4 linked regions of the Homo sapiens genome follow. Changing the gene in region 1 together with any one later gene gives a genetic interaction. Each region holds a gene or a part of one and is shown in the gene's direction. Other genes may lie near its edges.

Region 1 (3,500 bases):
GTTCAAGACCAGCCTGGCCAACATGGCGAAACCCTGTGTCTACTAAAAATATAAAAATTAGCTGGGCATGGTGGTGGGCACCTGTAATCCCAGCTACTCCAGAGGCTGAGGCGGGAGAGTTGCCTGAACCACTGCACACTAGCCTGTGCAACAGAGCCAGAGCCAGACTCCGTCTCCAAAAAAAAAAAAAAAAAAAAAAAAAAAAATGGTGGACTCCTAAGTTCTCTGCTCATAGGAAGGAGGTTTTTCATGGTCCTGACTTGCCCTAATACTCCTTACTCTTTCTTTTTCTTGGGTATTCCAGCTCGAGCAGCACCTAAAATAGCCAATGGTAAAGCAGCCAGTAGCAGCAGTAGCAGCAGCAGCAGCAGTAGCAGTGATGACTCAGAGGAGGAGAAGGCAGCAGCCACCCCCAAGAAGGTCTGGACCATAACTTCTGTCAGGGCAGAGGTGACCAGGGTGTGATGTGTGTGTGTCTTCCTTCCCTGGCAGGATTGGTTGGGTCAGCATTTTCCTGTGGTAATCAATTTTCTTTCTAATGCAGACTGTACCTAAAAAGCAAGTTGTGGCCAAGGCCCCAGTGAAAGCAGCTACCACCCCTACCCGGAAGAGTTCTAGCAGTGAGGATTCCTCCAGTGACGAGGAAGAGGAGCAAAAAAAACCCATGAAAAATAAACCAGGTGACTGGACATGGGGAGCGAAGCTGTGTGACTGTGGTCAGGGCCCAGCTGCAGTAACCACATGGACCTCTCCATAGAGGTGCATGAGCGTCCTCATGACATGACAGCTAGCTTCTCCGAGCACTAGTGATCCAGGAAAGCAAGGAGAAATCTCCAGTGCCTTGTGTAACCTAGACTCAGAGGTGACACCATGTTCTGTTAGAACTGAGTCATTGATTCTGGCCCATACTCAAGTGAAGGGGAATTAAGCTTCATTTCTACAAGAAAGTAGTATCAAAAAAAGTTGTAGACATATCCTAAAACCATCACACTATCCTTTTTAAACAGGTCCCTACAGTTCAGTCCCCCCGCCTTCTGCTCCCCCACCAAAGAAGTCTCTGGGAACCCAGCCTCCCAAGAAGGCTGTGGAGAAGCAGCAGCCTGTGGAAAGCAGTGAAGACAGCAGTGATGAGTCTGGTGAGTCAGAGGGATGCAGCCTCCCCTCAGCGTGGGTCTGGAGGAGGGGATGAGGAATAAGGGAGAGAGAAAGCCTTCCATCCTTCGGTTGCTTTTTGCTTAAAGCAAGACAGAGCTAAGGCTCTGTGCGTGTCTTTGCATTCTTTTTATTGCTGTCCTGGTTGGGTTGGGACTCTGGACCCAGCATAATGCTACAGGTTCTCCTCAGATTCAAGTTCTGAAGAAGAGAAGAAACCCCCAACTAAGGCAGTAGTCTCTAAAGCAACCACTAAACCACCTCCAGCAAAGAAAGCAGCAGAGAGCTCTTCAGACAGCTCAGGTAAGGCATATGGAGGCCCTCAGTTCAGTGAGATGCTCTCAGGCAGCTGCTAAGGGCTCCCCTGAATCCAATTTGGGGAGCTGTTGATTCCATCCCTTCTGTGTCTAGACTCTGACAGCTCTGAGGATGATGAAGCTCCTTCTAAGCCAGCTGGTACCACCAAGAATTCTTCAAATAAGCCAGCTGTCACCACCAAGTCACCTGCAGTGAAGCCAGCTGCAGCCCCCAAGCAACCTGTGGGCGGTGGCCAGAAGCTTCTGACGAGAAAGGCTGACAGCAGCTCCAGTGAGGAAGAGAGCAGCTCCAGTGAGGAGGAGAAGACAAAGAAGATGGTGGCCACCACTAAGCCCAAGGCGACTGCCAAAGCAGCTCTATCTCTGCCTGCCAAGCAGGCTCCTCAGGGTAGTAGGGACAGCAGCTCTGATTCAGACAGCTCCAGCAGTGAGGAGGAGGAAGAGAAGACATCTAAGTCTGCAGTTAAGAAGAAGCCACAGAAGGTAGCAGGAGGTGCAGCCCCTTCCAAGCCAGCCTCTGCAAAGAAAGGAAAGGCTGAGAGCAGCAACAGTTCTTCTTCTGATGACTCCAGTGAGGAAGAGGAAGAGAAGCTCAAGGGCAAGGGCTCTCCAAGACCACAAGCCCCCAAGGCCAATGGCACCTCTGCACTGACTGCCCAGAATGGAAAAGCAGCTAAGAACAGTGAGGAGGAGGAAGAAGAAAAGAAAAAGGCGGCAGTGGTAGTTTCCAAATCAGGTCTGTACCCAATGAACATGCCCTCTGGGTTTTGTCCCCCCAAATCAGGATGGGATATACTCTTTGAGAGTAGGGTAGTGAGAGGAGGCCCACCACTGGGCTTCCAGTTGTGGAAACTGGGAGGAAGAACAGGAAACTGGTTACCTTTTTTTTTTTTTATTAGAGTCTCACTGTGTCACCCAGACCAGGGTGCAATGGCATGATCACGGCTTGTGCAGCCTTAACCTCATGGACTCAGGTGATCTTTCCACCCCAGCCTCCTGAGTAGCCGGGACTACAAGCATGCACCACCATGTCTGGCTCATTTTTTTAACTTTTTATAGAGACAGAATCTCACTATATTGCCCAGGCTGATCTGAATTTCCTGGGCTCAAGCGATCCTCCTACCTTGGACTCCCAAAATGCTGGGGTTACAGTTGTGAGCCACTGTACTCGGCCTGAGTCTGGCTTTTTGTTTTGTAGGTTCATTAAAGAAGCGGAAGCAGAATGAGGCTGCCAAGGAGGCAGAGACTCCTCAGGCCAAGAAGATAAAGCTTCAGACCCCTAACACATTTCCAAAAAGGAAGAAAGTAAGTTGTCTCACTTTCTTCTCAGGAGCCAGCTCTTTAAAAGTAGAAAAATCTAGGATCATCTTGACAGCTCTGCCTGGCGTGACCTGGTACATGTGCCCATGTGTATCACTCAGGAGAACTGTTACATGACCACTCTGTCTTTAATTTCCTACTTCATTCTTCTGTAGGGAGAAAAAAGGGCATCATCCCCATTCCGAAGGGTCAGGGAGGAGGAAATTGAGGTGGATTCACGAGTTGCGGACAACTCCTTTGATGCCAAGGTGAGAGAGAGATCTGTGCCATTCTTGGGAGGGAGGATGGGTAGTGTCAGAGAGGACAATTCTTGGTTCAGGTTGGTGGGAATCTTCTCTGGGTTCAGGTTTCCTTGAGCAGGGAGTAGAAAGAATAAAGTGACAGGGCTCCAGCATGGTCCTCCTCTGTGTTAATCTCCCTCTCTACTTACCAGCGAGGTGCAGCCGGAGACTGGGGAGAGCGAGCCAATCAGGTTTTGAAGTTCACCAAAGGCAAGTCCTTTCGGCATGAGAAAACCAAGAAGAAGCGGGGCAGCTACCGGGGAGGCTCAATCTCTGTCCAGGTCAATTCTATTAAGTTTGACAGCGAGTGACCTGAGGCCATCTTCGGTGAAGCAAGGGTGATGATCGGAGACTACTTACTTTCTCCAGTGGACCTGGGAACCCTCAGGTCTCTAGGTGAGGGTCTTGATGAGGACAGAAGTTTAGAGTA
Region 2 (3,500 bases), on another chromosome or scaffold:
AGCGCCCCCTGGGAAGACAGGGCCTGCAGTTGCCAAGGCCCAGGCGGGGAAGCGGGAGGAGGACTCGCAGAGCAGCAGCGAGGAATCGGACAGTGAGGAGGAGGCGCCTGCTCAGGTGAGGCAGAGGGGAGGGGTGGAGAGTAGCCCCATGCCTAAACCCCAGCACCTGCATGGGTGTGGCCACCTTTGCCACATCCAGCTCCTGTCTCCACACGTCCACCCTCTGGGCTCTCCCCTCATCCTGTTTCTCACTCCAGGCGAAGCCTTCAGGGAAGGCCCCCCAGGTCAGAGCCGCCTCGGCCCCTGCCAAGGAGTCCCCCAGGAAAGGGGCTGCCCCAGCACCTCCTAGGAAAACAGGGCCTGCAGCCGCCCAGGTCCAGGTGGGGAAGCAGGAGGAGGACTCAAGAAGCAGCAGCGAGGAGTCAGACAGTGACAGAGAGGCACTGGCAGCCATGAATGCAGCTCAGGTGAGGCTGGAAGCCGCCCTGCATGGCCTGTGCCCTGCCTCAAAAGACCTCCTGTGGTTTTGACTTTTCCTCTCTGAACCTAGAGCCCTGTGCGGCTGGCTTCGTTTGCTCTCCTCCCCTCACTCACATTCTCCTTCTGGACTCCCTCCCTAATCTTGTCCTTTGTGTCTCCCAGGTGAAGCCCTTGGGGAAAAGCCCCCAGGTGAAACCTGCCTCTACCATGGGCATGGGGCCCTTGGGGAAAGGCGCCGGCCCAGTGCCACCCGGGAAGGTGGGGCCTGCAACCCCCTCAGCCCAGGTGGGGAAGTGGGAGGAGGACTCAGAGAGCAGTAGTGAGGAGTCATCAGACAGCAGTGATGGAGAGGTGCCCACAGCTGTGGCCCCGGCTCAGGTGAGGCCCCTTCCTGTAAGGCTCTTTCTTTTTCCCCCCCACTCAGAGTGGAGCTGCCTGTGGCCTCCCAACCTCACACTGGGACTCTGTCTACAATCTTAGTTTCTTAATGTCTGCACACACCTACCCTGGGCTCCCTCTCCCGATCCTGTGTATCTCACTCCAGGAAAAGTCCTTGGGGAACATCCTCCAGGCCAAACCCACCTCCAGTCCTGCCAAGGGGCCCCCTCAGAAGGCAGGGCCTGTAGCCGTCCAGGTCAAGGCTGAAAAGCCCATGGACAACTCGGAGAGCAGCGAGGAGTCATCGGACAGTGCGGACAGTGAGGAGGCACCAGCAGCCATGACTGCAGCTCAGGTGAGGCCTGGGGAAGGAGGCTGCTACATGGCCTGATCTGCCACACCACAGTCAGCACCCCCGGGGAGCTGTGCTCCCTCAGGCAGAGCATGGGTTTTGGCTGGTGGGGCAGAACAGATGGGGGACTCTGAGTTCAGGAACCTTCTCCAGCCTTTCTTTGGTGTCCCCTCAGGCAAAACCAGCTCTGAAAATTCCTCAGACCAAGGCCTGCCCAAAGAAAACCAATACCACTGCATCTGCCAAGGTCGCCCCTGTGCGAGTGGGCACCCAAGCCCCCCGGAAAGCAGGAACTGCGACTTCTCCAGCAGGCTCATCCCCAGCTGTGGCTGGGGGCACCCAGAGACCAGCAGAGGATTCTTCAAGCAGTGAGGAATCAGATAGTGAGGAAGAGAAGACAGGTCTTGCAGTAACCGTGGGACAGGTGAGGCCTGTGTTTTCTGGGCGGGCCTCAGGGCCGCCCCTACGTGGTCCTTTGGACTCCTGGAGACACCTCTCTTCCCCTTGTCATCCCAGGCAAAGTCTGTGGGGAAAGGCCTCCAGGTGAAAGCAGCCTCAGTGCCTGTCAAGGGGTCCTTGGGGCAAGGGACTGCTCCAGTACTCCCTGGGAAGACGGGGCCTACAGTCACCCAGGTGAAAGCTGAAAAGCAGGAAGACTCTGAGAGCAGTGAGGAGGAATCAGACAGTGAGGAAGCAGCTGCATCTCCAGCACAGGTGAGGCCTAGAAGGAGCAGGCCCATCCCACCCACACCTGTTCCTGAGCCAGGGCTGAGGATGGGCTTGACTGGGGGCTAGTGTTGCCTGCAGGTGTGCAGAAGCCTCAGAGGTAGCCTCAACACAGCTTCCTTCCCTATCTTTCACTCCATGTCTCCTCTGCCCATCAGAGCTCCAGGGTCTCTGTCTTGTTTGCCTTTTGAGGTCCTCCTGCTGATTGATTCCCTGTGGTTTTCACAAGCTCTGGAGTTCCCACCCTGCCAGGTGCTGCCCTTGTCTGGGGTTGCTGAGGCGCTGTTCCTCAGGGAAGTCCTGTCTCTGTGGAGCATGGACATGCTCCTGCAGTGTGGAGCGATGGGGTTGAGATAGAGGGTGTGAGCCTGGGCTGCGCAGCATGACAGGTGAGAGCATCTAGGCCTTTTACAGGAGGTGGCAGCATCTGAGCCATGGGCTGAAAGAGTTGGCCAGGTGAAATGGGCAGGGAGAGTGTTCCAGGCAGAGGAAGCAGTCTGTGCGAGGCCAGGGAATGAGAGAGTGCCTGGCTTGGGTGCCTTGCCACAGGCGGCACATTGTGGTGGGATGGCTGGCAGTTGTTTAGAGCCAGACCGCCTGGGTTCAAGTTTCAGCTCCACAGCCTGGCAAGTGCTGTAAGCCCTCAGAGCCCTTACTCTCCTATAAACAGGAAATCAGCCCTCACAGGTTTGGGTGAGAATTTAGGTGAGATCTCACCTGCTACACCCAGCAAGGGAGCTGCACACAGCAAGTTGTCTCTGTCACCCTGACGATGGGCCAGGCTAATGTGGAACAGATCAGGAGTGAGGTCTCCAAGCCTGGAAGAGCTGAGAGAAGATGGCTCACTCCCTGCACTCACCCACCCACTGTTTATTATTTTTAATTGTCGCTCTGTTTTTTTCTGTAACCACTCAGAAATTAGTCATTTCTTTTTTCTCTGTACCAGAGCACACATTTCTACTGATTTTTTTTTGTCCTCCTCTCGTTGACTTGTGGGACCTCAGGGCTCTAGAATTCCTCCATTGAGGTTTTTAAGCTCTGCAGGGGCCCCTTCCAGAGCCGCCTCTACTCTTTCCCAAGCTGCAGGCACATTCCAGACCCAATGCCTTACAGAGTTTCATTATGCAGCTCACTTAAATATTTGTCTTCCCTTCTGAGCCTCCCACCTGTACCATGAGGTGGGTGTTTTATTTTTATTTTTTGAACCATGGGCTATTTTGAAGTAAGCCGTTTAATTTCCAAATATCTGGGATTACCCAGGTTTCTTTTTGTTGATTTCTAATTTAGTCACATTGTGGTTGGAGAACATATTTTGTATGATTTAAATCCTTTTTTGTGTATTGAGACTTGTTAGGTCAAGTCAGTCTTGTGTCTTGTTTCTTGTGGAAAACATGGCTCCCCTCTGGAGGATTTACGTGCTCTACTGATGAGCACCTCGGCCTGAGTCATACTTGGTCCACACTGTAGGGAATCTTCTTGAAGTCCTGATTCTTCACCTCATTTGACCTCATGTGTTTGAGGAATGCTGGGGGATGGGGTTGTTTTCTGACACTGACCAGATGCC
Region 3 (4,046 bases), on another chromosome or scaffold:
TAACATAAATTTATATGGCCCAGCAATTCCACTCCTAGTTATTTACTTAACGGGAAATGTAAACATGTCCACACAAAGACTTGCATATGAATGTGGAAGCAGAATTATTCGTAATAGCCCAAACTGGAAACAAGCCAAATGCCCACCAACTGGTACATGCATGAAAAAACGTGCCACATTCATACAATGCAATGTTATTCAGCAATACCGGGCATTAGGCACTTTCGCCTAATATATTTATGATGTTCTCTGAGAGAATCCTGCAGAATGCTGGGAATGGGGAATAGCCTGACGCAGGCTGTTACTTAGAAAGAATGGAAAGAAAAATTAATGCCCTCTTTCCTACTTGAAACCCATCATGATTCCCAGTTATACACTGAGTTTGTGTCTGTCACTGACAGTTGATTCCTATGCATGATCTCATATTATCTTCGCAATGACACTGGGAGATTTATATTAATAATACCATGCTCCCTAGTTTATAGCTTCAAGAAACTAAAGCTTGCAAAGGTGTAACATCAGGTGTGTCCTTTTTCATACAAGATTGGATTTAATGGTTAACACAGATAAGGGTGGGTTTTCCCATTTCCAGAGTGTAAGGGTTTCGCTTCTCTCCCTCTGCCGGTCTCCTCCACTGTTTACACCCAGTAGGGCGTGGAGGGTGGCCTAGGGTGTGGCCCAGGAGGCTTCCCTAAGGGAAGGGGGTGGTGGAAACCAGGCGGTTTGAAGCCCATCAGGATTCCCAGTTATATATCGAGTTTGTGTCCGTCACTGCTAGTTGATTTCCATGCATGATCTCATATAATCTTTGCAATGACACTGGGAGATTTATATTAATAATACCATGGTCCCTAGTTTATAGCTTTAAGAAACTAAAGCTTGGAAAGGCCTAATAACATCAGGTGTGTCCTCCATTTTCATGCAAGATTGGATTTAATGGTTAACACAGATTAGGGTGGGTTTTCCCACTTCCAGAGTGTAAGGGTTTCGCTTCTCTCCCTCTGCCGGTCTCCTACACTCTTTACACCCAGCAGGGCGTGGAGGGTGGCCCAGGGAGTGGCCCAGGAGGCTTCTCTAAGGGAAGAGGGTGGTGGAAACCAGGAAGGAGACGAGAACCCCAGCGGGCAAGTCACGCAGTTACGCTTGTTCGCCCAGAGAATCCGGCAGGGCCTCCGCAGAGCCGTAAAGAGCTCTACAAGTCGTGAAGGGGCGAGGCGCAAAAGCGTAGCTTTACGGCGATTCGAGCAGTCGCGTCAAGCAGGCTATTCCGGGTTTGTGGCTGCTTGGCTCCACACGTGGGCCGCCGTAGGTATTCCGACCGGTAATTCCTCCTATTGGTGTGCAGCAGCCACATTGAAGGATAGAGTGGCAGCAGAGGCCAAGGATCGTGAGTTGATGGAGTTTGCTGCTGAAAATGAAGGGAAGTCTGGGGGAGGTCTCCACAGCGTAGCTGAGGGGGTGCGGCTAAGTCCAGAGCCTGGCAGGGAGGGAGTAAGGGACTTAGCAGGGGCGGAGGAGTTCGGCGGCGGAGAGGAGGGGACAGGGCTGACAGGGATAAAGGAGATAGGGGATGGAGAGGAAGGAAGTGGACAAAGGCCAGAGGAAATACCGATGGACCTAACGGTAGTGAAGCAGGAAATTATAGACTGGCCAGGTACAGAAGGCAGGTTGGCTGGCCAGTGGGTAGAACAGGAGGTGGAGGATAGGCCTGAGGTGAAGGATGAGAACGCAGGCGTATTGGAGGTGAAGCAGGAGACGGATAGTAGTTTAGTGGTAAAAGAAGCGAAGGTGGGTGAACCAGAGGTAAAGGAAGAGAAGGTAAAGGAAGAGGTAATGGACTGGTCAGAAGTGAAGGAAGAGAAGGATAACTTGGAGATAAAACAGGAGGAGAAGTTTGTTGGTCAATGCATAAAAGAGGAATTGATGCATGGAGAGTGTGTAAAAGAAGAGAAGGATTTCCTGAAGAAAGAAATCGTGGATGATACAAAGGTGAAAGAAGAGCCTCCGATAAATCACCCGGTGGGCTGCAAGCGGAAACTGGCCATGTCAAGGTAGGGCATGGGGGATTCCATTTAGGGGAATAAAGCTGTGGAGTCCTCATGTCTAGAGTGAAGGAAACCACACTATCAGGAGAAGGTGGAATAATGAAAAATGAGCACAAGTTTGGGTTTCTGGAGTCAGACGGCGTTCGCGGGGGTGGGTTGGGAAGTGGAGGGTGTTGTACATGACAACACAACAAATTCAGTGAAAATACATGAAATTAGTAGTGTCCAATGGGTAATGGTCAAGTTAGGAAAGTGGAAATTCTGGGGACCAAAAGATCAGTTGGAACTGGATCTGGCTTGACTTAATATGCTCTTTACTCGGTATTCCTTTGAGAGAGAATAGAGATGAGAAAGTCTAATAAAACTAACAATGACAAAGTAGATTAAGTTAAAACTAGGCAAAAATACACTTGACCTCAATTATCAAGCTTCTTCATGGGTGCTGTGAATATTTATTGCTTTTGATTGAATTTCCTTAGTGTGTGGATCATGTGACAAAGGAAATAAGAGTAGTCAGATTCTTGAGAATATTCCCGTCTAGAACACAGTGGGCTAAATAGAAGTAACTGTAGTTTGGTTGTCAGTATCCCAGGAGCATAGAAGAGCAGTTGAGGACAGATGATGGGTTACATGGCATTTCTAGATTATTTCGATGCTCATTCTAGATTAGGCGTGGAGTTCAGGAAAAAGGGTGCTACTACTACTCTCTAAATTTCACTTGGCCTTATATTCTTTGTCTGGTGTGTGCTTTAAAAATATCTAAACATAGCTCATGAATTGGACTTCTGGATACACACACATACAATCATTACCACATTTCCAGGAATCACAAGTTAAAATATCAGTGAATAATCTCATTCCCTGATTATAGTAGAAAAAGAAGTCAAAAGCGAGATGGGTTTTAAAAATTTTAATACATTTTCCTGAGTTACATATCACTAACAACATTGGAAATGTAGTTGTTTTGGGAAGGTTTCATAGAGAAGAATTTTCAAATGATGTTCAACAGCTATCAAATATTTTATCAGTTACTTGTCACTGAGTTTATAAATTGATTGGGAATTCTAAGTTTATAAATAAATACAATTAATATTTGATAATTTAATGTTACATGTGGGCTTTTGTAGGTGTGAGACTTGTGGTACAGAAGAAGCAAAGTACAGATGTCCACGTTGTATGCGATATTCCTGCAGGTATACATGTAACTTCCTACCTTTTAACCTGTATCTGTACCTTTCTTACCCTAAAATATAAAAGTACTTCCCCTTTGTCTTTTCAGTTTGCCCTGTGTAAAGAAACACAAAGCAGAACTGACATGTAATGGAGTTCGAGATAAAACTGCATACATTTCAATACAACAGTTTACTGAAATGAATCTCCTAAGTGGTAAGCCACTTTATGCATAGCAAATTGAGGCTTCCTGGCCATTGGTATATGTCACTTGTTTATTCTTCTGTTTTGAAATTTTTAGATTATCGATTTTTGGAAGATGTGGCAAGAACAGCGGACCATATTTCTAGAGATGCTTTTTTGAAGAGACCAATAAGCAATAAATATGTAAGATTTTTTCCTAATTTCTTCCAGTTAGAAGTCCTTCAAATCAATTAGATTCTTTTTTTTTTTTTAACTTACCAAATATATTAAGTGGCTACCATGATGTAGAGCTATTCTGATTACTTAAGGATATGGCTGTGACCCAAACAAAGTCCGTCCCCTCGTGGAGTTGTATTTAGTGGGAGATATAGGAGATAAGTAGAGGAACAAATGTAATTTCAGATAGAGTTAAGTTCATATAGAAAATAAAGAAGGCTCAAGAGATTAAAGAGAGAATGAAAATGGTCTTTGTTGGGGAGAGATTGTCAGGGTACTATTTTCGATACAGTGGTCAGGAGAAGCTTCTCAAAGAGATGATGTGTAAGCAGTGATCTGAGTGCTGAGAAAGAGGCTGTCATGTGAACATTTGGAGGCAGATTATCCCAGGTAGGGACAAAAGTAAAAGGA
Region 4 (3,500 bases), on another chromosome or scaffold:
GAGGCTGAATTAAAGAAGAAGTGGGTAAGCTTTTTGCCTTGGTGGGGAGAGAGAGGGCCTGCCTTGAATGCCAGGTCCGCAGAAGTGTTGAATGGAAGGGCAAAGGCAAGAGTTGTTAGGGTTGTTGAGGCTATTTGTGGAAGCCGGGAGAGAGGGAGGTTACCATGATACTGGATTTATGTCTGCGTTTGTTCACCACCCAGTCCATTGCTGTCTGGCTTATGCTTCCACTGCTCTGCTGACACTGCCCCTGCTGGCCTCATCAGCGCCTTCCCTGACATCACATTCATGAATAGTATTCTTCCCTCATCTTATTGGAATGCTCAGCATTTGAGGCTATGCTTTCTTTGAAGCATGTGGACTTTCTTGTCATCTCACTCTCCTGGATGTCTTTCTTCTTTGACTAGCCACTGACAGTCTCTTTTGCCACTTTTTCCCCTTTCTTATCTTTTTTTTTGAGATGGAATTTCACCTTGTTGTCCCGGCTGGAGTGCAGTGGTGTGATCTCGATTCACTGCAACCTCTACCTCCCGGGTTCAAGCGATTCTCCTGCCTCAGCCTCCTGAGTAGCTGGGATTACAGGCATGCACCACCACGCCCAGCTAATTTTGTATTTTTAGTAGAGATGGAGTTTCACCATGTTGGTCAGGCTGGTCTTGAACTCCTGACCTCAGGTGATCCACCTGCCTTGGCCTCCCAAAGTGTTGAGATTACAGGCGTGAGCCACCCTGCCCAGCCTTCTTCCTTATCTTTAAATGATGAAGCATCCCAGGACCTTGGCTTCTTTCCATCTCTGGTCTTAAGTGGTTCCGCCTGCCTAGGATACATTCTCTCTCTGCTTTTTATACCCTCTTTTCTCTGCAACTCTTTCCTTCCCTTCATCTCTCTTTTTCTTCTTCTCAAACCCTCATCTCCTGATGTCATATCTTCCCTCTCCCTGGACCCTGCTCCTGCCACCTCTGCCATGTCGCACCATTTCCTCTGTCTGTCACCCATCCCTCCCTTAGGCTGCAGACCCAGTCAGCTCCAGTACCAGTGTGTGTTCACTTGTTAGGTTGAGGAGATGAGGGAGAAGCAGCAAGCCGCCCGGGAGCAAGAAAGACAAAAACGCAGGACCATTGAGAGCTACTGTCAGGATGTCCTAAGACGCCAGGAGGAGTTTGAGCATAAGGTAAGAGTGCAGCCCTTGCCCCTGGGTAGGTTTGCTCAAAGCATCTTTTGCCGTTTTTCTGTGAAAGGGAAGAAGGTGTGAAGTTGTTGGAGGGGAACAAGGGAATCAGTGTAGAGAGGATAGAAAACCATGGGGACGGACGAAGGGAGGGAGGGAGGGATAAAGGGAGATAAAGGGCCATTTTGAGCCTTACCCGTGACTGGACACCTCTGGAGAGCTCCTCTCTCCCAAGGTTGAGCCTGAAGACTGGGGCTGGTGGCGGAGTTGGGGGCTGGGAGAGTTACATGTGACCAGGGGATGGGGTTGGGGGAGAGGGAGCGAAAGTATGAGGAGAGGATTGAGAGACAGAGAGGAGCATATGTGAGGGGATGTTGTCTTCCTTCTAGGGCTTCTTGCTGCCTTTTTGGCAGATGTTCTTGTTTCACACACAGAATACACGCTTGCCAGCTCATACTCCCTTTTCTGATATGCAGTGTGTATGCCTCCCCCATCCTGTGTCCCTCATAGATTGTTTTTTTCACACCTCCCTCCTCCATCCCTCCCTTTCACACCCATGTGCACACTCAGGTCTCCACCTGGTGCTCGAGCACACGTATACACATAGGCGCACACATGAACCATGGGGTTCTGTCCATTTTTCTTCCAGTTCCCAGCTTTATTGGTTGGTCAAAGCTACTTTTTGGTGGCCTGAGACTCACATGATTTATTTTTTAAATTATTATTTTACTTTAAGTTCTAGGGTACACGTGCACAACGTGCAGGTTTGTTACATATGTATCCATGTGCCATGTTGGTGTGCTGCACCCATTAACTTGTCATTTACATTAGGTATATCTCCTAATGCTATCCCTCCGCCCTCCCCCCACCCTACAACAGTCCCCGGTGTGTGATGTTCCCCTTCCTGTGTCCAAGTGTTCTCATTGTTCAATTCCCACCTATGAGTGAGAACATGGGGTGTTTGGTTTTTTTGTCCTTGAAATAGTTTGCTGAGAATGATGGTTTCCAGCTTCATCCATGTCCCTACAAAGGACATGAACTCATCATTTTTTATGGCTGCATAGTATTCCATTGTGTATATGTGCCACATTTTCTTAATCCAGTCTATCATTGTTGGACATTTGGGTTGGTTCCAAGTCTTTGCTATTGTGAATAGTGCCGCAATAAACATACGTGTGCATGTGTCTTTATAGTAACATGATTTATAATCCTTTGGGTATATACCCAGTAATGGGGTGGCTGGGTCAAATGATATTTCTAGTTCTAGATCCTTGAGGAATCGCCACACTGTCTTCCACAATGGTTGAACTAGTTTCCAGTCCCACCAACAGTGTAAAAGTGTTCCTATTTCTTCACATCCTCTCCAGCACCTGTTGTTTCCTGACTTTTTAATGATCGCCATTCTAACTGGTTTGAGATGGTATTTCATTGTGGTTTTGATTTGCATTTCTCTGATGGCCAGGACTCACATGATTTTTTAAGCCTCCTATAGTTTAAAAAGCCCTGCTTCTCTTTCTCGCTCTCTCCCCCTCCTCCCCTGGACCATTCTCTTTTTTTTTCTCCTTTAGGAGGAAGTTTTGCAGGAATTAAATATGTTTCCTCAGCTGGATGACGAGGCCACGAGGAAGGCTTATTACAAGGAGTTCCGTAAGGTACAGGGTTCCATTTCTTCAGGCTTTTGCGGGAGGGTTCCAGTCCAGCCCCTTTTCCTCTCCATTTCTGTTTTTTCCTGACTGAGATGGAGATTTTTGTTTCACAGGCCTGCATCACTGCTACCCTATCCTTTTCCTGCCCTCATCTCCTGGTCCTCTGCCCTGCAGGTGGTGGAATACTCTGATGTGATTCTGGAAGTCCTGGATGCCAGAGACCCATTAGGCTGCCGCTGCTTCCAAATGGAGGAGGCTGTCCTGCGAGCACAAGGCAACAAGAAGCTGGTCCTGGTCTTGAACAAGATTGGTGGGTGTTAGGCAGGATTGGGTGTGACAGGGAAGGTGGGCAGGCCATCTTTAACGTCTAGCTTGGACCAGACACTGAACCCAGCAACTCAGTGATACTCATAATAGTCATGCAAAGTAGAAATTTTTGTTCCGATTTTCAAAGCCTGTATCACAGAGTATGGTACAAGTTAGGTGTGGAATCCAAGCCTGTCTGCCTTTCAGTCCCCTGTTCTTGCCATTTTGAGCCTTCTCTGTTTTTGGACAACCCTGGAGAGTTCCTCCTCCCTCAACTCAAAGACTGGGGCAGAGGAGCACATGGGCTCAGGAGTCACTCATGTCTAGGGTTCAGCCTCCCACCTGTCCTGATTCTTTTCTCTGAGACACTGGATAAGTCA

Evidence for each region. A genetic interaction does not mean that the proteins touch.
Region 2: changes in NOLC1 (region 1) and TCOF1 together harm fitness more than expected from each alone (negative genetic interaction), as found in Homo sapiens cells (one large-scale study listed by BioGRID).
Region 3: changes in NOLC1 (region 1) and ZNHIT6 together harm fitness more than expected from each alone (negative genetic interaction), as found in Homo sapiens cells (one large-scale study listed by BioGRID).
Region 4: changes in NOLC1 (region 1) and GNL3L together harm fitness more than expected from each alone (negative genetic interaction), as found in Homo sapiens cells (one large-scale study listed by BioGRID).

What each region holds. Positions count from the first base shown.
Region 1 is NC_000010.11:102,158,889-102,162,388, forward strand, and holds part of NOLC1 (nucleolar and coiled-body phosphoprotein 1), read left to right. Parts: intron 1-304; coding exon 305-420; coding exon of another isoform or gene 421-450; intron 451-544; coding exon 545-680; intron 681-1,007; coding exon 1,008-1,136; intron 1,137-1,344; coding exon 1,345-1,455; intron 1,456-1,563; coding exon 1,564-2,205; intron 2,206-2,667; coding exon 2,668-2,774; intron 2,775-2,944; coding exon 2,945-3,037; intron 3,038-3,222; coding exon 3,223-3,381; 3' UTR 3,382-3,500. UniProt on the Homo sapiens protein: Nucleolar protein that acts as a regulator of RNA polymerase I by connecting RNA polymerase I with enzymes responsible for ribosomal processing and modification.
Region 2 is NC_000005.10:150,374,697-150,378,196, forward strand, and holds part of TCOF1 (treacle protein), read left to right. Parts: coding exon 1-115; intron 116-257; coding exon 258-467; intron 468-642; coding exon 643-858; intron 859-1,024; coding exon 1,025-1,213; intron 1,214-1,385; coding exon 1,386-1,634; intron 1,635-1,726; coding exon 1,727-1,924; intron 1,925-3,500.
Region 3 is NC_000001.11:85,705,634-85,709,679, reverse strand, and holds the start of ZNHIT6 (box C/D snoRNA protein 1), read left to right. Parts: upstream 1-1,246; 5' UTR 1,247-1,395; coding exon 1,396-2,051; intron 2,052-3,172; coding exon 3,173-3,238; intron 3,239-3,324; coding exon 3,325-3,431; intron 3,432-3,516; coding exon 3,517-3,602; intron 3,603-4,046. UniProt on the Homo sapiens protein: Required for box C/D snoRNAs accumulation involved in snoRNA processing, snoRNA transport to the nucleolus and ribosome biogenesis.
Region 4 is NC_000023.11:54,540,219-54,543,718, forward strand, and holds part of GNL3L (guanine nucleotide-binding protein-like 3-like protein), read left to right. Parts: coding exon 1-24; intron 25-1,054; coding exon 1,055-1,171; intron 1,172-2,736; coding exon 2,737-2,820; intron 2,821-2,988; coding exon 2,989-3,124; intron 3,125-3,500.